Linked DNA regions of Homo sapiens. The protein of the gene in region 1 interacts with the protein of each later gene in a pairwise test. Each region holds a gene or a part of one and is shown on either strand. Other genes may lie near its edges. The genes, in order: E2F3, RNF144A, WNK1 and PKIB.

The links.
Region 2: the proteins of E2F3 (region 1) and RNF144A interact in a two-hybrid assay, tested with the Homo sapiens proteins (one study listed by BioGRID).
Region 3: the proteins of E2F3 (region 1) and WNK1 interact in a two-hybrid assay, tested with the Homo sapiens proteins (one study listed by BioGRID).
Region 4: the proteins of E2F3 (region 1) and PKIB interact in a two-hybrid assay, tested with the Homo sapiens proteins (one study listed by BioGRID).

Annotation. Positions count from the first base shown.
Region 1 is NC_000006.12:20,474,745-20,482,344, forward strand, and holds part of E2F3 (transcription factor E2F3), read left to right. Parts: intron 1-5,101; coding exon 5,102-5,213; intron 5,214-6,461; coding exon 6,462-6,681; intron 6,682-7,600.
Region 2 is NC_000002.12:6,920,281-6,927,880, forward strand, and holds part of RNF144A (E3 ubiquitin-protein ligase RNF144A), read left to right. Parts: intron 1-7,600. UniProt on the Homo sapiens protein: E3 ubiquitin-protein ligase which accepts ubiquitin from E2 ubiquitin-conjugating enzymes UBE2L3 and UBE2L6 in the form of a thioester and then directly transfers the ubiquitin to targeted substrates.
Region 3 is NC_000012.12:747,642-756,059, reverse strand, and holds the start of WNK1 (serine/threonine-protein kinase WNK1), read right to left. Parts: upstream 3,482-8,418; 5' UTR 2,495-3,481; coding exon 1,736-2,494; intron 1-1,735. UniProt on the Homo sapiens protein: Serine/threonine-protein kinase component of the WNK1-SPAK/OSR1 kinase cascade, which acts as a key regulator of blood pressure and regulatory volume increase by promoting ion influx.
Region 4 is NC_000006.12:122,612,998-122,620,597, forward strand, and holds part of PKIB (cAMP-dependent protein kinase inhibitor beta), read left to right. Parts: intron 1-7,600. UniProt on the Homo sapiens protein: Extremely potent competitive inhibitor of cAMP-dependent protein kinase activity, this protein interacts with the catalytic subunit of the enzyme after the cAMP-induced dissociation of its regulatory chains.

The DNA.
Region 1 (7,600 bases):
TAATGCTGCTCCATCAAATATCAAAATTCTTAGCCCTTTTTCAAGAGATTCTAATTATTGCACCCATGTTCAGATCTGAGACCAAACAGGTAATATGTGGTCCCCACAAATCCAGTTCCGCCCTCCCTGTTCACTCAACAGGGGAGGAAAAATAACAGGATAACCCAACGGGAACCTCCCTTCTGAAAAGGGGAAATGACATAAAGTGCTCACCTCCTGCTTCTTGTCATGTCCTCCACAGGGACAGCAGTTTGTAGAGCCTATAAGTCCACCCCAAGTTCCACCTCCTGGGAGGAATTCTGGGGCTGCCCCTTCTTCACACCTCACTTATTTCTGGCGTGGCTTTTGGACCTAGTGATTGATTTCCTTAGAGGTTCAACATCATGGACCTTCACTTTCTAGACTTAGTGATTCTTTCGCAATAAAAGTGCCTTGCAATTTTAGTAGCTTGTCCATCTAGCATTCAAATTTGGTCAATTTATGGTTTGGTGCTTAGTAACGAGAGTTACACATGAAGACTAGTCCCGGTCTTTCGAAGTTAAGTCTCAGTCACTTAGCAGCAGACATGGAAATTTCCCTAACCTACAGTTTAATGGTTCCATAGGCCTTTGCCTCATGGCAGTCTGAAACAGCAGCCTGGGAGGGAGAGATAAAACTAGTATGCCCCCAGCCTGCTGACCAGTGGGTGGTTCTTTACTGCTGAGGCACGGCCCTAGGTCCCTAGGAGTTCTGGGTCCCAGACTCTTTTCCAAGTTTGCCTTCTTTCTGTTCACTTTATTTTCATTTTTTGAGACAAGAGTCTTTCTCTGTCATCCAGGCTGGATTGCGGAGGCACCAACCTCCACCTCCCAGGTTCAAGCAATTCTCATGCCCCAGCCTCCCAAGTAACTGGAACTACAGGTGCATGCTACCATGCTGGGCTACTTTTTGTATTTTTAGTAGAGTTAGGGTTTCACCAGGCTGGTCTCAAACTCCTGACCTCAGGTGATCTGCCTACCTCGGCCTCTCAAAGTGCTGGGATTACAGGCGTGAGCCATTGTGCCCAGCCCATTTGTTGACTTTAATTTGGGCAGAGAATACAGCTCTATGTCTCCTTAGATTGCTTTCTGTAGAGAAGGCCTCCATAGCAAAGCTGTTTTCTTTGAGGCGGGCCAGCCTCAGATGAAGTTTCTCTCTATCTGTAGTATCTTCCTGGCGGTCACAAGAAGTGACCAACACACTCTGCCACTCTCTAACAAGGCCTGCCAACTCCCTGTCACACCATAGCCATCTTGACTCAGCCAGTTCCATAAGCTGTCACTGGCAACAGCACAATTCTAGGTTCCCGACTCAAAACACTTGAAGCAGCTGGGCACGGTGGCTCACGCCTGTAATCCCAGCACTTGAGGAGGCCGAGGAAGGCGGATCACGAGGTCAGGAGATCAAGAAGATCCTGGCTAACATGGTGAAACCCCGTCTCTACTAAAACTACAAAAAATTAGCCGGGCGTGGTGGCGGACGCCTGTAGTCCCAGCTACTCGAGAGGCTGAGGCAGGAGAATGGCATGAACCCGGGAGGCGGAGCTTGCAATAAGTTGAAATTGCACCACTGCACTCCAGCCTGGGTGACAGAGCGAGACTCCGGGTCTCAAAAAAAAAAAATGCTTTAAGCAAAAAGGAGAGTTTATTGGCTAATGTAACTGGAAAGTCTGGGAAAGACCAACAGTTGCCCCCAGGGCATGACCAGAGCCAGAGTTTTGAGTGGTGGTCTCAGACCCCTCTCTCTCCTTCTCTCCACTCTGCTTTCCCCTGGGAAGGCCCCATTCTCAGGCAGCTTTAGGCTCCTCACTTACCAACCTTACTGGAAAGACATACCTGCTTCTTGCCAGATAGTTCCAGAAACATTCCTGGGGTTAGCCTTTGCTCCTCCAGCCTTGGTCATAAGCCATTCAACCTGTTCGCGGTGGGGGCGGGGAGGGCAGGATGGGCCACAATGATTAGCCAGGCCTGGATCACCTGTGTGCACAGATGCGCTTAGACCAGGAAAGGGATGGCTCCCCAAGGAACAAACAGGGAGCTTCTGCCTGATAAAGAGTGAATGTTTGCTGGACCAACCACAGCAGGCCCACACAAGGACTTGACAGAATGGCTGGGAGGGGAAGATGAAGTCCAGCAAGCAGATTGTCCTTCCGGAGCCATTAGAATGATGTTTAACTTAGCACTGCAGTAGAAAGATAAGGTGTGCCACTGAGGCAAGCCACATCGTAAAATATATATATAAAGAAACAGATGAAATAATTTTAATGCTACATCTGACCCATTAACAACATTGGGGTTAGAGGTGCCCTGACACAGTCAAAAATTTAGATAGATCTTTTGACTCCCCTAAACTTAACTAATAGCCTGTTGTTTGGGGTTTTCATTATTATTTTAGTGATGGGGGGTCTTGCTACGTTGATCAGGCTGGTCTTGAACTCTTGGCCTCAAGTCATCCTCCTGAGTAGCTGGGATTACAGGTGTGATCCATGCACCCAGCCCTAATAGCCTACTGTTGACTAGAAGCCTTACCAATAACATAAACAGTCATTAACACATTTCATATGGTATATGTATTATATACTGTATTCTTACAATGAAGTTAGAGAGGAAATGTTATCAATAAAAGAAAGTTTGGAATGAATGAAAGTGGAATCCACAGGATAGATTTCCCTCATCAGCCAAGCAGGACTAGAGGTGAGGGTGTGTGAAATAGGCCGTGCTGGGCAGAGCTGGGCTTTGCCTGAGTGTCTTACTCTTTTCCCTTATGATCTAAAGCCAGGTTTCTCCAACTTTAAGGTGTATCAGAATCACCTGGAAGGCCTGTTAGATTGCTCAGCCCCATTCCCAGAGTTTCTGATCCAATGCATCTTAGGTATGCTCTGGAATTTGCGTTTCCTAGCAGCTGAACTTGGTCCAGGGTTCAAAGTGTAGAAGGCATATGGGCATATAAAGCAGCTGGATGAAAAAAAAATCATAAGGAAGAGAAAATAGATTTACTATTCATTACTGGAAGTGGATCATCATAAAATTCATCCTCGTTATCTTCACATTGAGGAAGGTGTGGTGAAAGAAAAGAGGAGGGGTTGGTCTTACTGTCTCAGGGATGACAGAGGAAGAAGAAAACCCACATATAGGTGGACACACTCATGGCCGGGTGCAGTGGCTCACGGCTGTAATCCCAGCACTTTGGGAGGATGAGGCAGGAGGATCACTTGAGCCCAAGAGTTCAACACCAGCCTGGGCAACATACAGAGGCCCCATCTCTACCCAAAAAAAAAAAAATTTAAATTAGCCAGACATCATGGTGTGCACCTGTGGTCCCATCTACTCAGGAGGCTGAGATGGGAGGATTCCTTGAGCCTGGGAGGACAAGGTTGCAGTGAGCTGAGATCACACCACTGCACTCCAGCCTGGGCGGCAGAGCAAGACCCTGTCTCTAAAAAAATAAAATCAGTGGAAACGGACAGTCCAAACCCATGTTGTTCAAGGGTCAGTTGTATTTTATTTATTTCATTTAACATGTGATCACTACTAAAATTGTTGAGATATTTTACCCTGTTTTGTACTAAGTCTTCGAAATTCAGTGTGTATTTTACAATTATAGCACATGTCAGTTTGGATGAGCTAGTAACCAGTGGCTATCGTAGTAGACGGTGCAGGGTTAGCTGGTAACTTTCCATAGAGGGGCTGAATATCTAGCTTCCGCTGATAAGTTATTACTTACGTTTTCACATCACGGGGAGTTGTTTTGAAATTGCAACTCTCGGCTGGGTACAGTGGCTCACGCCTGTAATCCCATCACTTTGGGAGGCCAAGGTGGGCAGATCACCAAAGATCAGGACTTCGAGACCAGCCTGGCCAACATGGCGAAACCCCGTCTCTACTAAAAATACAAAAATTAGCTGGGAGTGGTGGCGTGCACCTGCAGTCCCAGCTACTTGGGGAGGGCTGAGGCAGGAGAATCACTTGAACTCAGAGGCAGAGGTTGCAGTGAGCCAAGATCGCGCCACTCCACTCCAGCCTGGGCGACAGAGCAAGACTCTGTCTTAAAAAAAAGAAACTGCAAATCTCCTCATTAGAAGAATCTGCCTGAAAATGAGCCTAAATACATATTTTTGTGCTGAGTGTCCAGTTGGTGCCATTTATTTTCTAAAACACCTGTCATACCCATACAATTAGTACTTAACAACTGCTTAACCATCTATCTTTTCTCTTGGACTCGAAGCCCCTTATCTATCTTGCTTACTAAGCCCAATGCCTAGGTACCTAGAAGACGCTATGTGGATATTTTAAAATTTAATTGGAGTTAAATTAAAAACTTAGATAAGGGCTTCTCATTTGCTAGGCTTGATAAGAAAATGGAGAAAGTAATAGTGGTTGAAGCCCAAGATTGCATGTTTGCAGTATTTGTTTTCCCGATGAAGGGCCGTTTGTAGTCTGTGACTAGTTGTGTTACGATCCAATCACCCTTTCTCTCATTGAATATACAGTATATAGAGAGAGTGATTGAAAATCTACAGAAACCCAGGCTCTGTGCCAAGCACTGGGTATACAAAGATAAATGGGAAACAGTCCCTGCCTTAAAGGAAATGAGAAACAGATAAGTCTTACAGTAATACCGAATAAGTGTCATGATACAAATAAACACAGAGTGTTTGGGGAGCACAAGGAAGGGGGTCCAACCCAGGTCGGAGAATGGGAGATGGGCAGGAAAGACTCACTGTGGAAAGGGAATTTAAGCCCCACGGCGCCTGTGATATTCTTAGCATCCAACCCCATGCCAGGCACATGATGTGTTGAATCAATGAACAAAGTGACTCCTGAACCTAATGCTGAAGGATCGCTGTGTTTGTCCATCTGGGTGTGGACGGATGATCACGGCAGGTGAAGAGAGTGTGCATGACAACCCAGCCTACAACGCTAGAATCCTGGCTCTAGGGAATGACAAGATGCTGAGTGGGGTGGAGCAGAGGGGTGAGAGCTGGCATGAGCCTGCAGCATTTGGCAGGCCAGCCCACAAACTGCCTCCCTTCTTGTTCTTGTCCATATGACCGGTGACGAGAGATCGCACTTTCTTATTACAGGCAAAGCGAAGGCTGGAGCTAGGAGAAAGCGGTCATCAGTACCTCTCAGATGGTTTAAAAACCCCCAAGGGCAAAGGAAGAGCTGCACTACGAAGTCCAGATAGTCCAAAAAGTAAGGATCTTTTCATCTCTTTCCTTATTCTCCTTGGTATGGCATTTCCAAGTTTCAAAGCTTATGGCCGGAAGGATGCCAAGGTGTGAATAATTCTGGCATGTTTTGTTCTTTTTCATTTCTTTCTGTGCTTATCCAAAAAAATAAATACAATGTCAGCAGACAACCAGTGAAAGGCTACAGAGTCACACTGGTACCATAAGGGAAGACTTCTTTTAACTGTATGTAGTTTCATTTTTCAACTCGGAATACGAACTTTTGGCACCATTCTATATCAAATTTAATTTTAACTTCCCTTAATGGACATTGCTTCAGAGTCTGAGGCAAACTGGATGTCCACGAACTATGCCAGAGTCACCAGTGTCTGTGCCGACCTCAATCTCCAGCTCAGCATATGATAGCGTAAGAATTGATTGAGCCCGATAAATTGCAGGCTGTTTCTCTTTCTATCAAATACTATTACCGTTTCTTGTGGGAGAGAGAGAAACGTAGGTTAGAAATAGCCAACTAGTCCCATTATGTATGTGTTTGCATTTAACATAAGGGCTAAATTAGACTTTGTTCTCTCTCTTCCTTTAGTTCATGCATTAGGCAATCCACAAATTGTGTGACACTAAATTAAAACCTTGACCTGTGCACCTATGGGGGAACAAGTACAATATTAAGTAAGGAAATTTCCTTTAAGAGAGATGGGGAGATTTGGCAGAAGACTTTTCCAGGTAATTATTTATCAAAATGAAGCATTGTTTGGAAAATTGGTGAACAGGTGATACACGCACACACAGATACCAGAGCCTGAAAGGCCATTTGAGATGGGTCTGTTTAAGACCTTGTCCTGCAGTGCTAGTGAGACTCATAGCCTGGCTCCATCACCGTAGGCCTCGTGTGTGCTGGTCCCCTGAGGCCACAGCACTCTTTCATTCATTTGACAGATATTTTTTAGCGCCCGCTATATGTAAATTCTTCATTGGAGCCAGGGAATGGTGTAAGTCAAGGTAGAAACTCTTGAGAAATTCAAGGTGAAATGCTTTAATCAAACCCTGGAATTTTTACCTTCCCTTCCTGCTCTAATAAAAAACTTTCATAGCTTTCTATGACTTGCCAACACCAACAGCAACGACAGCCTTGCTTCAGATACTAATACTTTGGCTGCAGTGGGAAAGAGAGCTTGCTTGACTGCAAAGACACCCTTCATTTCTTTACCTTTCCCCCTATCCCCCACCCGCTCGGTTTTTGTTTTTCTTTAAGCTCCAAAATCTCCCTCAGAAAAAACGCGGTATGATACGTCTCTTGGTCTGCTCACCAAGAAGTTCATTCAGCTCCTGAGCCAGTCACCCGATGGGGTATTGGATTTGAACAAGGCAGCAGAAGTGCTAAAAGTGCAAAAGAGAAGGATTTATGATATCACCAACGTTCTGGAAGGCATCCACCTCATTAAGAAGAAGTCTAAAAACAACGTCCAATGGATGTGAGTAGGAGTCCTCCCCATGCCCCGGCTCTGAGGGGGTCGTTTCAAACTGCCTGGTTTCTTAGTTCCTCACTTTCACATCCACGCCCACACGTTCTTTTCTTTTCTCTCCTACTGTTTTCTTCTCTCTCATTCTCTCTTCCCTCCTCAGCTTCTAAGCCAGAAGTTTGAAGTCTCTTTACAAAGAGACTTTGTTTAGATACTGTCAGAGATAAAAGGATTTATATTTGATGAGCATCCAGCAACGGCATCCTTAAAGAGGTCCCTGCAGTTGGAAAGTGGACTGCTGTTCATCTGTTACATAGATGTCTGTGTGCACCCACGTGTGTATCTGACAGATGTGTACACGTCTTCAGCTTGTTTCTAATAAGAATCTGGAAATGATGGCTTATGGGTTATCTATGTGTATACGTACAACTGCATAGTTACAGAATATCTTTATCCATGGTTCTAATAGCAGATTAACTCACTTTCTGGGTAAATTAAGGCAAGACTTAAATGCCTCCATTTCGTCTGTAGAGCAGGGATGGTAGCATGATACTTATACAGCCACACGTATGATTACATATGTAATATATTTTGTGAATTTTAGAGCATCTAAATAGCCACTATAAGCACAGTATTGAATTATTAAAGCATTTTGGAAGGAATAATTCTGTTACAGGAGGGCTTTGAAAAGATACTAATTCAGATGGAAGATGAATACATACCTTTTTTTGCACATTTTGGAATTTTGTTGACAGTTTGGTAACCCGTTTTGGCCTCTGGTTTAGAGAAACATATTGTGCACTAGTCTCAGTTCTTGCATACATCACATACATCTGTTTCCTTTACTTTCTTTTCTTTTTAGTTGTTGATATAAGACCCTCAGTAATTACCTGAGTTTTTGATGCTTTTTTGGATGGGTTGTTTTTTTGTT
Region 2 (7,600 bases), on another chromosome or scaffold:
CAGAACCAGGTGGGCCAGCACCCACCTGGCCTATGAACCCTTGTTGTAACCATGGGAACCTCGTAGCTTGGAAAGGAGGGGTCAGGTAGCCCAGGCCACATGAAAAGCTGTGGCTGGTCCAGCCCTGGCATCAGCTTTTCTGGTTCTGTCTGCTGTCCCTTTTTTCCCATACCTCACTTGCAATAGAAGAGGATGAAGCCGTGCTCGCTGCCCTGCACGTTGGGTGGTCTGGAACCATTCAGGATGATATTGAGCCCTCAGACTCTCTTAGAGCAAGGAACCCCTGGCTTCACAGGATGTGGGATCTCAGAGGCAGCCCAGAGGCGGGGAATGGAATGGAGTGCTTCTAAGGAAGAGGGACTCTCCGTGTTTTCTCTGGGGAATTTTCTAACATTGAGATCGAAGAATGAAGTTGGAGGTGCCTTTCTTTTCTTTAAGAAGTAATCATTTCCAAGACTAGCCTCCTTTCTCCGTTGTTTCTGCATTACTGAAACACATGAATACCCTTTCTTAGTTAGATGAAGAAATTAAATTGAAGCCACTGCTCACATACCTGCTGGGTAGTGGGGCTGAAGGATAGAGCTTATTACAATTTCCTGACCCAGCTGTCTGGCCCTGGGCCAGCGTCTTAACCTCCCTGGATGGCTCCAGTTTTTTGAGGATAAAACTGAGGTGTTGGTGTAAATATTTTCCAAGATCCAGAAATAAAAATGTACTGTTGGATCATATTTTTTTTCCAGGAGAATAAATATTACAGGACGACTCACCAAGTACAACCATTCGTAAGGGTTTGTTTGTTTCCCAAGAGAAAATATTTTAACTTTCAGAAGAGTGGATTTTTTCCAAAGTGAAATGGTGAGAAATGAAGCTTTGAGGAGGGTGGCTCATTGCTGATAGGAGCCTTCACCTTGCTTCACTCCACAAATAACCCAAGACCTGAATTTAAAGGTGCTTACTTCCTGGATGTTCCGTAGAACTGGAAGGCAGGCTTTCTCTAAGGAGCAGGCTTATAAGCTGGATGCAGTGTTCCAGACAAAAGCAAGCTCCTTGGTGGCATGCAGTGTGTCAACCAGTATTTTATCATCTCAGGTGTGTTTGGCACTAGAGGTGGAGGAGGTGGTTGATACTCATTATGGATTTGCCTGATCTTCAGGGCTTTGCTTGCATCGTGGATGCAGTTCTCACACAGCCCTGCAGCACAGGCGTATGTTGCTATCCCTAGCTGACAGAGGAGCAGAGTGAAGCAGAGAGCAGGGATGTTGTCCAACATCGCACACACGTCGTCAATTTTGAAGCCTGGCTTTGAACCCAGAGGCCTGCAGATAAGGATAGATCCCATGACCTTGAGGAGGCTGTAGTCTAGGGAGCGGGAAGCTCAAACATTAACAGATTGAACCGTGGGGTCAGGGCAGCATGGGAGGTCAGGGCAGAGAGCAGTGGGACCCACAGGAGGGTGCCTGGATCAGCCCCGGGTGGCAGGGAGGCTGCCTGCTGGGGCGATGCTGTTGGTCTGGGATGGGAGGGACGGGTCAGAGTTAGCTAGGCAAATTAAGAGGGACAAGGTCACATTCTGGGCCTGGGAACAGCAAGAAACAGCCTGGGGTGGACAGGGAACTTAGGACCAGCACACAGGGCCGAGCTCCCCAGCTGCCTTACCATTGGCCTTTTTAGGGTGGCTGGTGGTCTCTGAGCTGTTTGGACCCAGATTTCCGTGTGTAATACAGCCGCTTTCATTACTGGCATCTCCTGGAAGGTCCCATCAGTGCATTTTCCTTTTCACTGTTTTGTTTTGGAGCGTCTTTCCCTATCTGTGTTCCCTCCATTTCCTTTCCTCCTCCTCCAGTTCTACCTGGTGGGAGAGTGAGTTCAGGGAAAGATCAGGGGAACCACCCATAGCGACCATTGTTTTTACAGTCAGTCACCTTGCTCCCATGTCTTCCGAGTGACCCATAGTTGACTGGGGCCAGCGAACTAGACATTAGCCCCGTGCATGTGCTGGATATGGCCGTGCAGGCTCTGGGGGCTTCTGCCTATGGGAGCCTGTGGGAGCAAAAGGGAAGGGTTCCAAGTCCTGAAAGTGGATGTTGTCAGAGTCTCTTTATTGATTGAACGGGCTTTTGTGTCTGTCCAAGGACTGTGCACATCTCTTACAACATTGTGTTCCTGGGAATACTTTTTAGGTTTCCCAAGAACTGCTTTCAGGTAATTCTGTGGAGCAGGGCATGTTTATTGTTGATGCATGGTGTGTTAAGGTCCTCTGGAGGGCAGAGGAGTGCAGAATGCAGCAAGCTTGACTGCCTCCTGCGAGCCATGCAGAGGGGACCCGCCCGGTTTTTCTTGTTTTTCTTTTTTTTTTTTTTTTGAGATGGAGTCTCACTTTGTCGCCCAGGCTGGAGTGTAGTGGTGCAATCTCAGCTCACTGCAAGCTCCGCCTCCTGGGTTCACGCCATTCTCCTGCCTCAGCCTCCCGAGTAGCTGGGACTACAGGCGCCCGCCGCCACACCCTGATAATTGTTTGTATTTTTAGTAGAGACGGGGTTTCACTGTGTTAGCCAGGATGGTGTTGATCTCCTGATCTCATGATCCGCCCGCCTCGGCCTCCCAAGGTGCTGGGATTACAGGCGTGAGCCACCGCGCCCGGCCTCCTGCTTTTTCATAGTGTGTCTCAGACTCCAGGGTGTGTCACCTGGCTGGTGATCTGGTGGGTTGCAGGAGTCCCCTCTGTGCACCCTCCGTCGCTGACTGGTCTGCAGCCTCCTCTGCAAGTTTCCAGCATTCTAGAGTGAACTCTCTGATGTCTGCACCACCTGCTCGACCCCTGCTACAGCCTCTTCAGTGAGGTCTGCCCATATCCTCTGAATGAAAGGGGGCCTGCCAGGGAGGCAGCAGCGCTTCCTCATGTCCCCATTTGGGTGGTAGGAAGTGTTCCCTCCACAGAAATACTCAGATGTCTGCATGAAGGGACTCTCTCCTCAAGTTCAAACATTCACTGAAACGGAAATGCGCTGAAGCTGGAATCAATGCACACCTTTTTTTTTGTTAACTTTCTTGGGAAGCTTGTGTGTTAAGCCTGTCGGTGTCTGTTAACACTTCTCTATTCAGAGACCTCCAGCCACGCTCGTTGCCCAAGTTACCTGTGAGCCCGCGGGTTGAGTGTTCAAGCCTCTTCCTGCCTTGGCTCCAGCCTGTCTTTCCAGGGCTGATCTCAGCAGCTGCTGACGTGTGCCCTGGGACGCTCTCCCACCATCCATGTGCCAGCTTCCTAATGATTCTTGAAGGCTCATCACAAATGCTGCCTTTCCTTCCAGCTGTAAAATTGCCAATGTGGGTGACTGTGGAGATGCTCTCCTCTGACACTGGCATTGCACAGATGAGAAGATGGAGCCGCACGGAGCAGAACTGGGACGGAGTTAAAGCTCCAGGGTCCAGGCCAGGTCCTGCAGGCCCAGGTGCCTGCGTTCTCTCTCGTCTTCCCAGGCACAAATGTTTTCCCCACCAGGTGCTTCCATAGCAACTTTATTTTTTTTTTTCAGAACCTGTAGTTGCGTTTAAAACTCTCTAATCCAATTTTACTGATTTATGTAACCATCCTATTTCCTCTGCTAAATTATAATCTCTGCACAGGTAGGAACTTACTCATTTTTACATTCTCTCAGTGCCTATCATGCTCTTTCTGAATGGATTTTTGTTAAGTGATTGAATACAAGATAGAGAAACCTGGTTCAAGAGGGAAGCCTGGAACAGATTATGAATGAAGAAATGGAATTCGAGTGTAAATTCTGTATTCCATCATGATCCGAGTAAACCAGGTTCTCTCTTTAGGTCAGGTCACAGAACAATACACCTTAAGACCCTGAGAAGTCAGATGGGAATATTTGCTTGGGTTTAAGAGTGAGGATGGTAGAATGTAGCCTGGTGGCCTGGAATGCAGAGAGAGAATCCTGGGTACCGTGGTTGTGTAGACACCATGTAAGTGAGATCCAGAGTAACAGCTGGCGAGACTTCCGTGGCCGTGTTGCTGGGGGGCCCGAGGCACTGTGCGATGCACGGGAAGCATAGGACGTGGCCTTTGCCTGCGATGTGAAGGGAGATGCATAATGTGGAATGGTTAGAACCAAGCGCCTGAATGTGCCCATCCGAGCGCATGTCCTGGGAGTCTGGTGAGGAAGCGATTGTGGAAATGGGACTCAGCATAGGTGGGCTTTGGAGAGCTGGGGAGTGTAGAGAAGGGGGTGCTCTGAGCTGTCCCAGAGCAGGGCAAAGACCCAGGACGGGCAGGGTTTGTTCTGGAGGATGCTGAGGAGACAGGGCTGTTGGATGAACGCTCAGGAGCAGCAGAGGAGGGGCCTCCATCTCCCTTCCGAGTGCGGGCCTCTCATGAAACACTAGGATGCTTTCGCCAGTGCCTTGGAGGAACTTGCCAGGTAGGGCCCCAGGGCCAGAGATTCTTGTGGTTCTTCCTGTATAAGAGTTGAAGAAGTGCAACTGCTAAGTGTGCTGTGAAGTGTGTGAGGAGCCATCCTTTGTGTTCACTGTATTCTCTGTCTCTGAGGAATCCGTTTTCTGAGTAACTTATGTGCCCATGGTCTGTGGTGCCAGTTGTGCACTCACAAGCATAACACAGGCTGTGTGCTCCAAGGGAGCCTTTGCTTTGGGAAGGGTGTGGGCTTCCAGAGACCTTGGGGCTGGCTCTTTGACGGATGGAGAATGTCAGGAAGCACCTGGGTCCTTCTGTGAGTTTTCTGGCGACCTCGATTGCCACACGGCGAATTTTGATAGCGTATGCACTGGAGCTTTGTAGCCTAGGGCAGTGGCATCCAAAGAGCTTCCAGGAGACTTTCTGAGTTGGCACCTTAGATCTGAACTCTCTTGACTAAAACACTTGCATTTCCTTCTAACCACTTGGCAGAAGTAAGTGATTGTAATCCCTGGTGTGGATGGGATGGGGCTGGCTGTATCCTCACAGATCTCACTCACAGATTGCAGGCCCTTCTCTCTTCTTCTTGTCTCAGTGAAGCACTATCCAAGGCCCTGAAAACTGAGCCAGTCTGGTCATTGGTGGCCGGCAGAGTGGTGGATAGGGCCAGGTGTATTAGGAAAAAGAAAAAGAAATCTCTTTATTTAATCCATTGTGAGACACTAAGAAACCATCTGTGTTTCAGCTTCTGTCCTCCCCCTTCCCCCCCAGTTGCTCTCTTTACTTTCTTCTTGTTATCATGTGTAGGGGTGAAAGTGGCCAGATATGAGAGTAAGAGTTCCCATTTATCCAAGGACAGAAGCAGGCAGGAACCTCAGGATCTGATGTGGGCAAGCCGCAGGTAAAGGGCAGGTTCAAGGCGCAGAATACAGGTAGATGATTCTCTCTGATATCTGCCTGCATCTTCATGTGGCTGTCTTCTCTGTCTCTGCGCTGGGGGTGCACCTCTTCTCACAAGGACTTCAGTCATGTTGGATTAGGGCCAAGCCTGTTGATCCCATCTTCTCTTGATTGCATCTGCAAACACCCTAATAAGGTCACATTCATAAGCATCAGGGGTTAGGAGTTCAATATATCCTTTGGGGGAGACATGATTCAACACACACGTGTGCGCACACACACAAACACACACATACACATGCATCAATACACACAACACATATATATGTACCAGTATCAGGCATAGTGTTTGTTTGTGTTTGGATGTGTTAGCATATGTTTGGCCAGCAACATAGCACTTACTAACAAGGACTTAAACAGCTTTCTGTTTCCTTAATAGCAAGGCACTGAAGGTAGGTGCTTGCTTCCAGGTGCTGGTGCAGCGGCTTGGGATGTTACTGAGAGCCAGGTTCTCTCTTCTTTCACTTTGCCATCCTCAGCATGTTTTCCTTTGCCCCATCATGCAAAAGGGCTGGCCACAGCTGCGCCACATCTGTGTTGAAGGCAGTGAGAGAGGAGGGGGAGTTGGTGTCAGCTGCATCTGTCCGTTTTTGTCAAGAAGCGACAAGCTTTTCCAAAAGTTTGGTGGCTGACTCTGTTCAGGGCCCAGTGCCAGAGCTGGGCTGCGTGGCCGGCTCCTGGAGAAAGAGAAGGAGAGAAAATGAGGGTCTGCCTGGGAGGTGGTCCTGGAGGACTGGACTGGTAACACATGCGAGAGAACTGCCCCGTGCAGGGGTTGGCCGTGCTAGGCCTTGATAAAACTGCCTTTCCCTCTCTTACCTGCTCTTCCTGGCAAAGCAGGAGCCCATATGGATTAGGCCCAGAGCCATATGCATGCGGCTTCAAGGTTGCAGGTGTGGGGCTATGCACACCTGTGTGTTCCATCAATAGGTTCGGTGTGGGTACAGTGTGGGCTGGGAATCCCAGTCCTGTCCTGGTTGTCTTTGTACCCCTCTAGCACTCGGCACACAGGCTTCTCATAGGAGGCGCTCAATAAATATTTGTTGAAATGAATCTGCGTCTTTTCCCTTCAAAGACATTTGAGTCCAGAAACAGCCACATTCATTCACTATAATATTCATGAATATCTTACTCTTTATTTCTATTGTTGTTGTTGTTTATTTACTTTTGTTCTTTAATCCATCATTTGGCAAAAACTACTTGGTACCAGGGATTCAAAGACACATTGAGGACTATATAGTGAAGGTGAGGACTTGCAGAGAGGAAGGGATGGGGCAGAGCGGGGGTGCCCTTTCTGAAACAAGGGAGAGTTTACCGTTCTGGAGTCCACATGGCAGGGATTCATCTCTTAAACTTGCGGTACTTTGTTGAGTCCAGTTTCACTGTAGTAAAAACAACCAGAACACATAGTAAGCCCTGTTGGTCCCGTGAGATTGCCTGCTCTTCACGTCTCCTGTTTGTGAAATAGCACAGGATTTTAGGTGCAGGGTTTTTCATATGCCGAATAAATATTTGTGTAGCCTTCACTCTAGGCCAGGTACTGTGCTGTCAACTGTGAAAGCCTGAGTAAGACTCAGAAGGATGTGTTTGCAGCTCCTCCTGAAAGGAATGCACAATTTCTGCCTGCTGATTGGCCGAGGGAAGCATTTCTTATCTGTTAATACTTTAATCACTCCTGGGACTCTCTCCCTTTGGCCTGCAGCTCTGCTTCCTTGACAGTGACCTTGTTTTTTTTCTGTCCCTGGCCATGTGCAGTGGATCCAGCCTTTCCTCGGGAGGACCAGCTTGACTGTGCCAGCCTAGGCGACTGATCAGGGCCTTGAGCTGTGTCCTGCTGGCCTGGCAGATAAGGGCTGCTTTCTGGAGGCAGGCAGGACTTCTTCCTTGTGTAGCAGAAAAAACAGAATGCAGACAGGTGGAGGGGAAGCGAGGACCTGAGCCAGGCTGTCCTCTGCGGTAGCTACTGGCCCTGCGGGGCCCTGGAGCCCTTAAATTCTGGCCAGTCCCAATTGAGCTGTGCTGTCAGTGGGTTTTGGGTGTGAAAAACAGAATGTAGAGTACCCAGTCATAATTGTTATATAGATTGTATGTTGAGATGATTATATTTTGGTCATATTGGGTTAAATAAAATATATTACTGAAACTAATTTCCCATGCTTTTTAATAAAATGTGGCTACCAGAAAATTTAAAATTGTGTATGTGGCTTGCATCAGACTGAAGTG
Region 3 (8,418 bases), on another chromosome or scaffold:
AAATGTGTCTACCTGTAAATTTCTGCCTGTAAACCAAAAGGAATCGGACATAAGTTTTTTTGTTGTTGTTGTTTTTGTTTGTTTTTGAGACGGAGTCTCGCTCTGTCACCACGCTGCAGTGCGATGGTGCGATCTCCGCTCACTGCAACCTCCACCTGCTGGGTTCAAGATATTCTCCTGCCTCAGCCTCCCGAGTAGTTGGAATTACAGGCGCGCGCCACCATACCCGGCTAATTTTTGTATTTTTAGTAGAGTCGGGGTTTCCCCATGTTGGTCAGGCTGGTCTCGAACTCCTAACCCCGTGATCCACCCGCCTTGGCCTCCCAAAGTGCTGGGATTACAGGCGTGAGCCACCGTGCCTGGCCCAGACTAAGTTTTTTGAATATGACTGACCAAAATGAACAGTTTTCGTTTGACGAGGTTTTTTTTTTTTAAAGATCTGTCACCTTTTCAATTCTAAAATACTATAAAATTAATGAGTAGTTTTAATTTCACACTACCTTAGAAGTTCTACATCATTAACTGTAAAAGTTAAGAAATGATTATGTTTGTAAAGAACTTCTTAGTTTTTAAGTTTACTTCCACATGCTGTGTTAATTTCACATTTGATATGGCCTTAGTTATTTGGAACCTGACATTCAAAGGGTTACGTGTTAACATATTAGTTCATGGATAAAATAAGTTCCAAGATCATTCAGTTATTTTCATATCCTGTATCAGGCTGGTCTATATTCTTGGCAAGATTACTATATCAATAATGGCAATTTTTATGCATGCATAATGTGGCTGACTTCCTTCAGCATAAACCTGCTCCTACTAATAACCTATGTTCACCTATGCCCAATCAGGGCAATATTTAAGCAAGCTGCTTCAGTAAGTCAAGCAACAAGTAGCCCAAACTCAGCTGTTTAAACCTAGAATGTACTAGTCAACCGGAATGACACACCATTATTTACACCACTAGAGGTTAAAAAAGGAAGTGCTGCGACTCCTTCGGACTCTTGGGAAAGTTCAGCTTAAAGATATTTTATAAGATTAAAACAATGATGATGACATTACGACTCTCAAAGCACTTACACAATTTTGCATGGGCTCCTATACTATTCGCTGTATAGTGAATGGGCTGAAAGACATTAGTTTAATGAACGTCAGAGCAATGCTGCTACTGTAAGGCTTAAGCATCATTAGGTAGAACAACATCAAACATCCAAAAGGGGCAGAGAAGAGTCTTTTTTTAATAATTATTTTATACTAAATGCCTGTGCAACCATCAAGCAAAATACATCCAAAGGTACAAGGTTGTTCTCATTTAAAAAGAACAGCCTGATCTCAGGAATGAAAACACGCTTCTACACCCAGACGCAGCTCATCACTGCAGAGCCTTTGATGAGATTGAAATGCACAGAAGAAGAAGCATCTGTACTTTCAACTTCCCCACTCATTCCAAGTTTCCTGCCAGACTCTAAACCAGGAGACAATTCGTTTGTACTAAGATGACCTTCACCACCGCTGCCCGGTAGCAAATCCCTCTGGCTACCAATAATTCTTATCCTATCCCAACACCTAGGCACATGCTCCACATTCTCCTAATTTCAGCCCCTTTCAAAAGTTGGCCTCCCCGTCCCACTCGGAGTCCAACAGAGAATGCCAAGTGAAGGGTGAACTCGATCAACTGGCTTCGCCGAGCCAAATTTGGGATCCAAAGGACCGTCAAATAAAGTAGGTGGGGCTTTACCTGCAGTTCACACCAGGCGACTTCCACGGTGGTTTCAGTGTCCAGACCTTTGTAGACCGTCTTAAAGGAGCCTCTGCCGATTTCGATGTCAAACTTGAGAAAGCGGCCATCGTTAGACATTCCCACGGCCTTGGTCTCCAGCTCTTCGATATCATCCTGCTGCTGGCTCCGTTCCTCCTGTGGCTCCTTGGCGCTGCCGCCGCCGCTGCCACTTCTCGCCGGCGGCGGCTCCTCTTTGCTCCCCACAAGGCTAGGCTGGGACACTGGGCGGTCTTTGCTGGTACTGCTGGGGACAGTCGAGGGGGCAGGGCCCGCGACGGCCTGTTCCCCAGGGGCGGCAGCGGCTGGAGGCTGCTGGGCTACCTGGGAAGTGGCGGTGGCGGTCACGGTCTCTTCCCGGTGGGGCTCCGGTGGAGCACTCTGCGGGACAGCCGCGGGGATGCTGGGCTGGGGCAGGGAAAGAGGAAGGCCGGGAAGCTCCAGTGCAGTGGCATTGGAGTCACAGATGACGCTCCGGCGGAAGAAGCGGTGCTCAGTGGTGGTAGTGGTCGCGGCCGCCCCACGGCTGTCCTTGTCCATAGTGTGGCGGCGGCGCCTGTACTCCTCGGTCCTGCCGGTCACAGCGTCGGCGGCCGCGGCTCCCAGTTTCTCCCCCACGGAGGAATCGGAGCTGGAGCCATTCTTGGGGGCAGGAGCCGGCGGCGAGAGGAACAGGGAACCGGGAGTGCTGCTCTGCTTCTCTGCGGCGCCGCCAGACATGGTCGGTTCGCTGGAGAGAGGCGAGCGGGCTCGGATTCGTGAACGAAAAGGGCGTGAAGGGCCGAGCCGCCCGCGCAGAGGTCTGCAGGGAACCGCGGCCGGGCGGGTTCGCGCCGACCCGGACGACGCCTCACTCAGCACCGACAAGCCGCAACGAGGGACAGGCGGACCGCTGGGCCCAGCTGCGGCGGGGGCTGGCACCGAGGCTGCTGCGGCTCACGAGGAGGGCTCGAAGGCGGGCGATTCGGGAGCTGAGCCACGGGGGTTAGCGCCGCACGGTCCGCATCCATCCTGCGGCGAGCGGCGGCCGGGCGGGCGGTGGCAGCAGAGGCGCCGCAGTCATGAGGGGAGGGCCAGGGGCCGGCACCGAGTCGAGGCGGATGCGGCGGACGCGGCTCCCACTGCCGCCGCTCGCCGAGCTGGGCGGGCTAGGCCCAGAGGGCGGCGGCACCGCGAGCACGGGACCAGGTCCGACGCCCGGGCGGTGGCGGCCCCGGGGCAGAGGAGTGGGAGGGGCCGAGGCGGGCGAGGGAAGGCCGCGGCCCGGCTCCCGGTCACTCGGGCGGCCGCCTCCTCCCACACGCGCCCCCAGCGATGGGGACCGGCCTCACAGGTCGCCCATCGCCCAGAGGCGAAGGGCCGGAGCCTCGGAGCCTCGGCGCCTGAGGAGCGGGCCCCCCCTTCCCCGAGGCCTCCCCGCCCGCCCCAGGCCTGGCAAACCCGTCTCCTCCCGGGCCGGTGCCGGGGGCTGACGGAGGAGGGAACGGCGGGGAGGGGAGGGCCGCTCACCGCGGGGCCCGAGCTCCGCTGCTTCTCTGAGGCAAGAGGAGAGGAGACCTAGAGGACTGGGTGAGGGGGAACAGGGAGAGAAAAGAGCAGCCACCCCCACCAGGCGCCTTCTGTCACCGAAGATGGGGGTGCGGAGTGGCCGAGAGAGGAGCCGCGTCCACCCGGGAAACTCTCCGCGCTAAATGGCGCCGGGAGTCTGAAGCCTCCACACAGCCCGCTCGGATCCCGCCCCCCGCCGCCCGGAGCAGCCCCACCCCCCAACTCGCTCCGGGGCTTTTGCGCAGGCGTGCTAGCCCCGAGGCACCCTGGGACTTATAGTTTACGGGTTGGCGGGGATGAACGGGACCTAGAAGAAAAGTGCCTACGACTTCCGTGATGCCTTGCGGTTGCTGTAGCCTAATGCCTCGTGGGAGTTGTAGTTTTCTTTGGAAACCGTCCCTTCTGAAAGGCTGATGGGAGCGTCATCACGGGTCGCTCAACCCCATCCCGAAGTCCGCGCGAGCTTAGGAAAATCATTATTTAGGGATTAATTGTGGAAGAAGGAAAGGAAGGAAAAAAAAAAAAAAAAGAAGAGGAACGAGCGGGCGGGGGGTGGGGGGGGGGATGGAAAGACTCCCATCATGCTCTGCTAAGCTAGAGAGCTCTTAGGGTTGCCATGCAATGAAAAATGATCTGTTGTTCATCTTTAATGGAGAGAGCCTCAGTAGTGTTGAGTGACTGCAGGGCTGTGAGGGTGGAAGGGAAGGGCAAAGCAGGATAACCGGAGCCTGAGCTCTGAGTCGGAGGAGGGGAAAAGAAACTTTGTGAAGATTGTGCATGAAATTAATATTGATTAAACGGATTGGAGGAGGAGACACGGAGGATTACCTTCCATCCTCCTCCCCTCATCAATTAAGGCCACATTCTCAGCTCCCGGCCGAGACGGATATTCTGGCTCTCAAAAAAGGGCTGCCTTACTGAAATCGGGGATCCTAGTGAACTCTATCTTTGCTTTGTCTGAAAAATAATAAAAGGGGGGTTGGGGGAGCGGTGGATTCAAGAAAAGATAAGGTCTACGGATCTATGGGTCTTTGACCACACTTGGGGGGCTGGGCTGACTTCTGCCTTTGTAGTTGGTTGAAACTTATTTTCCACCTTTCTTCTGCTGGTGGCTTCGTGAAACAACACCCCCTCTTTCTCTAGAGCTCCTGAATGTCCACATGCAATGTCTACAAAGGCTCTGGGCCCGGGAAATGTGGATCCATGCGGCTTGCCGCCATGGAATGTTTTTCTTGAAAGCATCCTTGTCTGCCTGGACCCCTGTGCTCTTCGCAACTACTCAAGATGTGGAGGGGACGAGCACCAGGGGGCACCAGACCGAGTAGGAAGCCGGACTCGGGAGCAGACTGCAGTTTAAAAGCCTCAGTCCAACCGGTGGAGAGCGGGAAGCGCTGAAAACGTACGCAACCGCATCAGAGCGTCCGGACGCGGCCGCCTCTCTTCAGCGCCCGCTGCGGAACAAGCTCGAAAGCGCGCGTCGGGGCCGAGGACCACGCTGCGAGCGAGCAGCTAGCAAGGAACTCGGCAGGAGGTTCCTTAGCACAGTTATCGGATGAGCTCCACCTACAGAAGTCTTGCCCTGCAGTTCATGTTAATTCATCTGATACGTAAAATACTTAACCCTATTTTTCTTTTCTTTCTTTTTTTGTTGTTTATCACAAGCTACACTTTCAAGTTTACAAAAATGTTTTAAACCAATGATCGTTAGGTTTCATGAAGCTGACAGGTTACGAACATTTTAAAATGCCGATTCAGCAGGGACAACTAGAGTACTAAAATATTAGTGTTCCATTGCTTTAGAAAATGTATCTTTCATTCGTTTGCTATTGGTAATGGTAAATAATCTCATTATGGCAAATGGAATTAAGAGTGTTTTTCTAACCGTAAACCTAATGTAAGCAAGGGAAGAAATGGCTGTAAAATACATTTTTATTGTACTTTTGAGTAAAATAAAACTTACCCAATTGTTGCTTCACTAGGAAAAATAGTCTGATTTTAAACATAAGGCAGCTAATTACAAATTGGCAAGTTAAAAGAAGATCAGTAAATCACAATGTTCCCTTTTGGCACCATGAAAAAATTAGGATATTTTTGTGTGAGTGGTTGTTAAAGGATTTTATTATTGCCTGTTCCTGTTTACTGAGCCCTGAAACTTTGGCCACACTGCATTGGACACAAGTCCCTTGATAATCACCATGCCCTATCAACATGTCTTTTCAACCAGGAACAACTAAATTCATTGTAAGTAATTTAATTAACTGTTGACTTAAAACCACACTTGCCTAGGAGACAGCTTTTCCCACTTGTGTAATATTAGCTTTACAATGAAAACAGATACAATTTTAAGTTGAATATAATCTTATTATGTACAATGATTAGATTTAAAGGTTATATTATTTAGTGTGCGTATTTTACTAACAAACACTTTTTTGCTCAGTTTTTGTTTTGTTTTGTTTTGTTTTGAGAGAGGCTCACTCTGTCGCCCAGGCTGCAGTACAGTGGCTTGATCCCAGCTCACTCAGTTCTTTTTAATGCTTACCAACCTACCTCCAAGTAAATGGTATTTTCTGTTACTCATTACTATAATTCCTAATAGTACTTTTCCTTTCTCTGTCACTTCAATTATCCAGTAAAGAATCAACCTCTCTATGTTCCATATAAAACATCAAGTGACTGTAAACAGAGATAACAAAGAACCCAGGATACAATGAATGCACTAAGCTCAGAGGTTTGACTTCCTTACATTTGGTTCCACAAGAAGAATACAAGTATGTTATTCTGTCTCACCATGTCTCTATTCTCTCTAGTTCTTGTTCATGTTCTCACATTGATTGATTCATGTTTCTTTCTATTCCCTTCCATTCACATTTTTTTGTTTACATGGTTTCTGCCATTGGTAACTAGCTAGCAATGAAAGTCAGAGACACCTTTGATTTAGACAGTGGCTGAAATATCCTAAACACACAAAATCTACCTTACTTTGAATGTGGCAAAATATTGATACATAAAGTTGCTTCTTGAAGTGTAGGGGAAAAATTGTCCCACCTTAAGAGCATTTCTCTTTTTTTTTTTTTGTCTCCTTTCCCTCATTTTCCCATGCTCCTTTGTCTTGCCTATGGGTAATTTTTATTTTACCTCTTTGTCGTCTGGAACCCTGTCATCTGGAAGTAGGAAGTGAGAATCAGGCAGATAAACAATGAAGAATAGTTTTTTAAGAACTTTATATTATAAATGAAATAAAGGGGGTGGGATTTTCCCTATATCAAAGTATATTATAAAACCATAAAATTAAATCTATATGGTATTGAGATAAGCATAGGCAATGGAACAGAAGAGAGAGTACAGAAACAGTCTCATGTATGTATGGGAATTTCATATAGAAAATGGCATTTGAAGTCAGTAGGGCAAAATAATAAACAGTGCTTGGACAATTAGTTATTCATTTGAAAAATAAATGAGGTCAGTGTTTACTTCAGACTGTTCACAAAATTAATTTCCACATAAATTGAAGAACCAAACTTTTAAAAAATATCTCTAAATAATTTTTTAAATGTAGGAGAACATAGGGTACTAAAGGGCTTCAAAGAGCAATCCAAGAGCCACAAAGGAAAATATTTGACAATATCAAAATTGATAATCTATTCAACAAAACACAAGTGACAAACTGCCAGAAAAACTCTGGAGACTGTATAACAAAAGATTAATATCCAAAAGATATGGGGGGAAAAAAACCCTCTTAAATCACTGAGAAAAAGGCAAACCACTGTATAGAAAAGGAGGATATGAAAAGATAATTTACAAAGCAGTAAATGCCATGGTGGCTTACACCTGTAATCCCAGCACTTTGGGAGCCTAAGTGGGAGGATCACTTGAGGTCAGGAGCTCGAGACCAGCCTGGCCAACATGGTGAAACCCCGTCTTTACTAAAAATACAAAAATTAGCCGGGCATGGTGGTGCGCGCCTATAGTCCCAGCTACCCGGGAGGCTGAGGCACGAGAATCGCTTCAACTCAGGAGGTGGAAGTTGCAGTGAGCCGAGATTGAACCATTGCACTGCAGCCTGGGCAACAAAGCGAGACTGTGTCTCAGAAAAAAAAATAAAATAAAATAAAGCAGTAAATGCAAATAACAAAAATAGACATGAAAAAGATGCTGAAACTCAGTAACTAGCAAAATGCAGATTAAAATATAATATTTTCTCTCATAAAATTGAAAAATTATCTTTTTTTGAGACAGAGTCTCATTCTGTTGTCCAGGCTGGAGTGCAGTGGTGCAATCACAGCTCACTGTAGCCTCATACTTCTAGGCTCAAGCCTGCCGAGTAGCTGGGACCACAGGTGTGCACCACCATGTCCAGCTAATTTTTAAATTTTTTGTAGAGATGAAGTCTCACTATGTTACCTTGGCTGGTCTGAACTCCCTGGACTTAAGCAGTTCTCCTATTTCAGCCTCCCAACGTGCTAGGATTGCAGGCGTGAACCACCACGCCTGGTCTAAATTGAGCAAAAAAAAAAAAAAAAAAAAATTTTTTTTTTTTTTTTTTAGTGTCCCCATCATGGCAATTTGCAAAATTTTTAGGGATTCATAATATCAAGTGTTGGCGAGGATGTGGAGAAACGTGCTGTTAATGATACGGTAAATTGGTACAAGCTTTTTTGAGGGCAATTTGTTAGCAATTATTAAAACGTACAATGTGCATCGTCTTTTTCTTTCTTTTTGGTACCTACCTTGGAAAAATACTTGCACGTGTTTCCTAAGAAATATCTATAAGAGGGTGGGTGCTCACGCCTGTAATCCCAACACTTTGGGAGGCCGAGGCGGGTGGATCACAAGGTCAGGAGTTCGAGACCAGTCTGGCCAACATGGTGAAACCCCGTCTCTACTAAAAATACAAAAAATTAGCCGGGTGTGGTGGTGTGTGCCTGTAACCTCAGCTACTCGGGAGGCTAAGGCAGGAGGATCACGTGAACCGGGAGGTGGAGGTTGCAATGAGCCGAGATTGTGCCACTACACTCCAGCCCAGGCAACAGTGCAAGACTCCATCTCAAAAAAAAAAAAAAAGGAAAGAAATATCTATAAGAATATTCACTATAGCC
Region 4 (7,600 bases), about 100 Mb from region 1:
CAAATTTAGAGCTGAGGTACAGCAAACACTTTTGAAAAAAATGTCGCAATATTTCTCAGAAACGAGATATTTCTTGCCTAATGTTTTTTAATGCTAAATGAGCATGAATCAGGCTTAATCAAGACTAAATTTTCATTAATGTCAATTGAAAATGAGAAAGCATGCAGTTTGAAAATTGTATTTTAAGTGTTGAGACTTAGCCAGCTCTGAATGGCTGGACAATAAATTCGGTGGTTTTCCATTTCTTCAATGCAAAATTTTAATTGAGTTAGAAAAAACAAAATTATTCTTTCCTCAACATCAAAAATAAACTATACGTCTTGTGAACTATATGTCTTGTGATAAGCATTGTTAATCATGATTCCATATAATTATTTTAAATAATAATTAAGCATATTCTATTAGTAGATTTAGGGATCTAAGGCCCAAGAGTAAGTGATTTCCATATACAAAAATCACATATTAGACCAGGGCTCTGGTTTTCCTGTTTTAAAACTTCCCCCATTAGTACATGTTCCTCTAAATCCTGTTAGTTTCAGACATTTTCATATGTTATATGTACTTTAAAAAAGTCATTACCAGGTAGTGACATTACATGGAAATAATCTAGGTTAAGCACTTGAACATCCCCATAAAATCAAAGACAGCTACTATTTTTTATTTTTATTAGAAGTACAACTGGTTTTGGCCCTGCGTGGTGGCTCATGCCTGTAATCCCAGCACTTTGGGAGGCTGAGGTGGGCGGATCACAAGGTCAAGAGGTAGAGACCATCCTAGCCAACATGGTGAAACCCCGTCTCTCTAAAAATACAAAAATTAGCTGGGTGTGGTGGTGCACACCTGTAGTCCCAGCTATTTGGGAGGCCGAGGTAGGAGTATCGCTTGAACCCAGGAGGCAGAGGTTGCAGTGAGCTGAGATGGCACCACTGCACTCCAGCCTGGTGACAGAGTGAGACTCCATCAAAAAAAAAAAAAAAAAAAAAGAATTACAGTTGATTTTGAGAAATCAAATGGATATGCTACTTTTTACTGAACTGAGGTACACTTTTTATTCTAGCAAGTGGCAAATAGCAGTATTATGTGCCCAGAGCAGAGTGGATTTGTGTTCTTCAGTCACTCCTAGTTGTAAAAATGTGACATTGCCCAAGAGTTGGGTGCTTGGTTGGAGAAGAGAGTTCAGAGATGTTTAGATAAAAATAAAACAATCTAGATTTGCATAATTTCCTGAACGGGAAGAGGTATTCTCACCTAGAATCCTGGATCTGTTAGAAGTAGGATTTCTCAGATTGGAAAGAGGGCCAAGGAAATGGAGATTCTTTAAGACAATGTGGTCTGTAGCCAAGATAGTTTTAATGTAATTGAAGAAGCAGCAACAGAAGCATCTACAGACAATATGAATGGAGCTGGATTCCTTCCTGTACCTCCCAGACTCTCCCTTCCTGCAGTCTCTGCTTTCTTCTAAGCACTCTTATTGGCTATGCTGTTGAAAGTATTCTTATCCCCGTGGGGGTGTGGGAGTAAGCATCCCCATGGGGGTGTGGGAGTAAGTAAACTGTAGGCTTTCTTTTTTTTTGGATAAAGTAAAGGGAGAACTGAAGTCCAGTGTGATAGCTTCAGGAATAAAACCATGGAAGACAGGAAATAATTAGGTAGTCTTCTCAAGCATGCTTATATTTTAATGGTCACAAAATAATTTATATCTAGATTAAATTTTATGGATTGAGCTAATACATCTCAGAAGAAGAAAACACCATTCTTAAAATTCTTAAAATCATAAAATCTTAAAATCAGTGTGTGTGTATGTGTATGTGCATGTGTGTGTAAAGAGGGCTTACAACTCATGCAATTACATTAGTGTATTACATTAGTTTATTTTATATTTTAAAATGAAAATAAATACCTCTACCATGGAGCTTCTGGAGCCAGGTATAATATTAAATTTTAAAATGCTGAAATAAGCCCTACTTTTCTCACTTTTCCCAAAAAGGCCTTGAAATCTAATGAAAAGCCAGATTATAGGTATGGTGGATTTTGTTACACTCCAAGGGTTTGCAAAAAGTCTATCAAGCCAAAATTTATAAACGCCAGGACTTCACAGAAACCACTCTTCTTTTCAGTTCCATCATCCTTGAAGAAGGGTGTCTATGATAATTCTGTGTATTGTAGTGAAGTAGTAGAACTTTTTGCAGTAGTGAAAAGAAAAAAAAAATTTTTAAATATGTCTTTCTAACATGCCATGAAGCTGTGCATATGTATATACTGTTGTAATCCTGGGGAGGTTTCATCTGAAGGCTACTGGAAGGACTGCTCTAGTAGGCCAAGCAAGAGATGCTGAATGAGTCAGGGCAGCAGAATTAGGGATGAGGAAAAGTATTCAGATTCTAGAAATATTAGGAGATGAAAATAATTGAGTTTGATGGTAGTTGGGATATGAAGTTAAGAAGACATGAGAATGAAGAGTGCCTCTCAGATTCTTGGCTTGAAGTGAGAGCTGGCACAATTTACAAACATGCAGGTTTAAGAATGGGGCGACTTCATGGGTGTACTGAGTTGGATAATGTCTCCCCAAAATTCACGTCCTTCCTAGAATCTCAGGATATGACCTTATTTGGAAATAGGATCACTACATATGCAATTAGCTAGGATGAGGTCATACTAGAGTAAGGTGGGCTCTTAACCCAATATGACTGGTTTCCTTATAAGAAGAGGCAAGAGACACAAAGAGAAAGACACATAGAGGGTAGACAACATGACAATGCTGGGGGAGATTGAAGTTATGAAACTGTAAACCAAGGGATGCCAAGGTTTGCTGGCAACCACTAGAAGCTAAGAGAGAGGCATAAAACAGATTTCCCCTCTGATTCCACAAAAATGAACCAACCCTACTGACAGTTGATTGGATTGCTGCCATTCTGAACTGTGTGAAAATAAATTTCTGTTGTGTTAAGTCACTCAGTTTGTGGTAATTTGTTACAGCAGCTCTATCAAACTAATACAGTGGGTGTGAGTAAAAGATACATTGGGGTGAAGATATCCAAGAAGCTGTTGTATAACAAGCTCAGAAGATGCAGATTGAGTTGACATTGGCATGCAGTAGGTAAATATAATGATGAGATCTCCTATGGGAAGCACATGGAATCAGAAGGAAAATGGGAGAAAAATGAATCCTGGGAAATGAGTTCCAGTCAGAGCCCAAGAGGAGAAGCTGGAAAGGGCATTGTCATAGCGACAAAGGTATGTAGAGCTTCAAAATGTGTGGCATGATCAACAAGTCATAGACATAAGAGGACATAATAGGAGAAGGGTTGAAGGGACTTTTGTTTTGACAAGTAGAAAGCAAGAGTAATGGCTTTATGATTGGAAGGTTGAAGCCAGATTGTGCTGCGTGAGAAGGAAATGGAAAGTAAGGAGATAGGATCAGCTAGTGTCCAGTAGTCCTCCCAGGATTATAGGTGAAAGATGGAGGAGACGGTTCGGTATGCAGGGAATCACGCGACACAGTGTCCAATTAATTTTTGTTTAATATTTAAAGGAAAGCCTTTGTCCTATCTTTAGGAGTCATTAGTGTGGGAGAGGCTGTTAAGTATAGAAAAGACAATTTATGGAGCTGCTTTCCAATAAAGGGGATTGGGTTAAGGACGAAAGTGGAGGCCTTGAACATACAATGTTTTCAATCTGTAGTAGAAGCTTGAGATGTTTTTAAGGGTGAGTAGTTTTTTTTTTTCTTTCTATGGAAATAACTGTTATGCTAAGAGAAAGGAAACTACTGTTTATTGAGCAATCTGCCAGACCCCTAGGGTTGGAGTCTGGTGGATTGATCAATAAATAGTAATTTGTAGCACATTTTCACTAATTTCGTTTATTCTCCAATCTGTGAAGTCAGTGTTACTGCTCTATTTTTTAAGACGAGTAGGCAAAGAGAGTATCTATTCAAAGTCATTTAATAGAAAGTGGCAGAGCTGAGATTAAAAGCCAAGTTTGATTGATGCTTATTTCTTAAATCTACAGCCTTTCTACCCTTCTAATTTGAGCTCAGTAAAAATGCCCAGCTAACTCACTTATATTGGACCTTCTTAGCCAGTGGCTGAGCACACACTCAGGTCTCATTCTCAATATCCCTTGTAAATATGGCTGCAAAGAGGCAACAGGTTAATGGGTATTGCATCTACCGTATGCACTACCTAATGTGGTCAAAGTTCTACACCTCTGAAATCAAACAGTCATTTCAGGTTTTTCATTTATTTGTCCCTTATGGATTCAACCATGTGGAAATACGGGGTTGAGGGGAGCCATTTTTATTTATTTCCCTCAGGGAGTGGTGGAGAAAGTTTTTAGGGGAAGTGAGGAATACTTTTCTGGCACGGTAGATCTGGGTCAGCTCCCTGAGATGCTTGTGGACTTTTGCCAAAGAATATTAAGCTTCAAGTAAAACCCAGCATAGTTTGTTTCAACTCTGAGAAATTCATATTTTGGGTTCTAGGTTTGAATGCTTTGAAAGGAAAAATAAACCTTTCAGTATTCAGTGAAACACTGGAGGAAACAAAACATTGTTTTTACTCATAGATATTTATTTTTACCAACTCTTTAAAAAAGTATTTTAATTTATCCCAACTTGATGAAAACTTTTCATATTTTCTTTCAATAATATTATTGGTCTTAATTGTCAGTTGATTTGTTTTCTTTTTGTAGGTTTTTGTTTTAATATGACTCATCTGAAATACGAATTAAGTTTGATGACAACAGTTTAGGTTATGTCTAAGTATATCTAGAATTATTTTACATAAGGACTGTTAAAAAGATTTACTTTATTAAGTACATCAAGATGTTTTTTATTTTAATTCTCACATGCATCCATAATTGTTTTAATATTGGGTATCTTCCAGTTTTTGTACATTTGTAAGGATGTTTTTTACATTAATGTAACAATGGTGTACAGTTTGTATCCTACATTTCTTCCTCTTAAAATTACTATTGCCAGTGTAAAAATGAGTAGAAACAGAAAATTAAAGAAAATAACATTTCTTAAAAGAATGTATAGTATCCTATGAAACAGTTTTTGGTTAGATAAAATTTCAGATCATAAGGATAGGAAACACTTTCTAGTTTGCTGAAAGGCTACATTCTAATTTCACTGCACCCTGTGGTAATCATTGATTTAACTCAGAAATGAGAAAACAAAATAAAAGAGAAACATACCCAAACGATTAAAATTCATTACTTTAGCTATTAGCAGTATTTGAAAGTAGAATTCAACTTTTCAAGGGCAGTATGTGCTTACTGTTATAAATTCTTCACCAAGAATCACAGACATGAAAATACCCTCAAACATCTTTTTCTTTCTTTCAGTCTCATCTCTTTGTCAACCCTTTATCATTACATAATAATGAATTATTCCACATGTTACTTTCTGGGCAAGTAATGTTTTCCACTTAAAATACTACCAAGTCCTAACCTTTAACATTTTTTAATAATGTTTTAGAGATAATATACGTTGCAATGAAAATCAGAAATTTCAGAATAGTTTTAAGAAAAAAAAGGTCTATTTATATTTGATTTGTCCACTAACTAGAAGTAATCACTATAAAATTATTCTTTGCATACACATAACTTTTTAAAAGACAAAAAATTATCATATCATATTCCCTGTTTCCCACTTAATAAATCATCTTAGTATAAATTACAGTTTTTTAATGGCTCCATTAACTAATTTTCTGGTGACGCTACAGAAAGTTACCAAATTCAGTTTTATAAACAATAGCATAGTAGATAACTCTGTTCATAATTTTGATACATCATATACACCTATTTGATTAATTCCTTTGAATAAATTTCTAGACATAGAATTGCTGCATCAGAGGATGTTAATTTTTAAAGAGTTTTGATATATTTTACAAAATATCTTCAGAAAGCCTGTGCAGTTTACATTCAAAATAATACTTTTACTAACATACTAATACAGTTTCAAAAATTTGAAATTTAGAAATCAGTGGGAAAATATAGCTACATTTGTATTTCTTTGATTGGTAGTGAGGCAGAATATTTTTAGTTATTTTTATGAATTGTTATTTTATATTCTTTGCCTGTTTTTTCAATCTGTTTGCAAGAGCTTTTTATTGATAAATATATCAACCTTTTGTATGTCTATTTTACAAATTTTAAATGTTTTCTTTTTACCATTAATGATTTAGGGTGCACTGCTTTGTAGGATACTTAATTTTTTAAGGATGTCAAAGTTATCAATCTATTCTCACGTAGTTTGTGAAGTTTAAGATGGCCTTTCCCACTTGTAAAAGTATTCACCTACATTTGCTTTTAGTACTTTTTACATCTTTTGTTTCTATTTAAAATTTTAATCCATTGGCAGTTATTTTAGTAAGAAATAAAGTGGGGATCTTACCTTATTTTATTATTATTTAATGGCTAGCCTTTTTTTTTTATAGCTATTTGTCCTATAATGGATTCCCTCCCCATTGATTTGAATAGCATCCTGTGCCTTCTCACCCCCGCACCTGCCTTGGAACTTACCTTTCTCATAGCTGTCCCACTGTTAGAATGCGTTAGAATGCAGACATGACTGCAGGCTCTTTGACTGCTCCCCCTTCATCCACATCTGCCACTCACAACCTGAGCCCTAGAAGGAAAAAAATTTCTATAACCCTTGTCATAGCATCCAGCTTTCCTAAATTACCACATTACCAGTTTTGGAACATATAATTTTGTTGGTCCTGAAAAACAGCTAATTTTCAAATGCTTCAAAGTCTCTGATTTTATCATTCACCTGCTCATTTTTTCTCTTTGTGTTGAAACTTTGTTATATGTTTTGCTACCTCCCCCTTGACCCAATGTCTCCTTTGTATTCTTCCTTCAAAACCATTCCATCATGCTACCTGGAACAACTGTTCAATAATAATAAATTAATCTATATTATTAACTTCCACCTTTTCCCTTAGCCCTGAAGCTTGACTCTCCCCTGGGTATCTTACTTCTCCTTAAGCCCTTCCTATTGGAGACTGTTTATTATTTTCAATTTTATAATCTCAGAGTAGTAGAGGGGGGCACATTCCCTTCATGCCCCCATATGCCACCTGTACAATATTTTTCCACCCTCTTATACTCACTTCCGCTCCTTTGAGCACTCTGGCTATACCATCCTCTACCGTTTCTCATTTCTATCATCAATGCTGAGGGTTTAGCACCTGAACAAACCCCTCCTGTTCTGAACACTCTAGTAATTGGTGTACAGTCATCTTCTCCCATCCTTCTTCTGTCCTAAATCTGGTGCCTTCCTATGTACATCCAATATCGTGACCTCTCACTTACCATGTGGTCGTGTGTGTTTTTTTGAATTCCCAAATGTATTCAGAAGAGAACCTAGTTAAAGAAGCACAGACTCAGAAGTATATAGAGCCGAAAAGCTCATTATAGACTAAGAATTCTCTCTTGGTTTCTTAACACAGATAGGCTAATAATTCAGCTTTCCATTGATCAGAATTTGTGTTGCTTGGTTTAACTTAGACAATCGTTTACTGCTAGTATCAAAATATTTGAGAATATTGTTGCATAAGCATCTGTGTAGAATCAAGAAGTTCCACACAAGGCA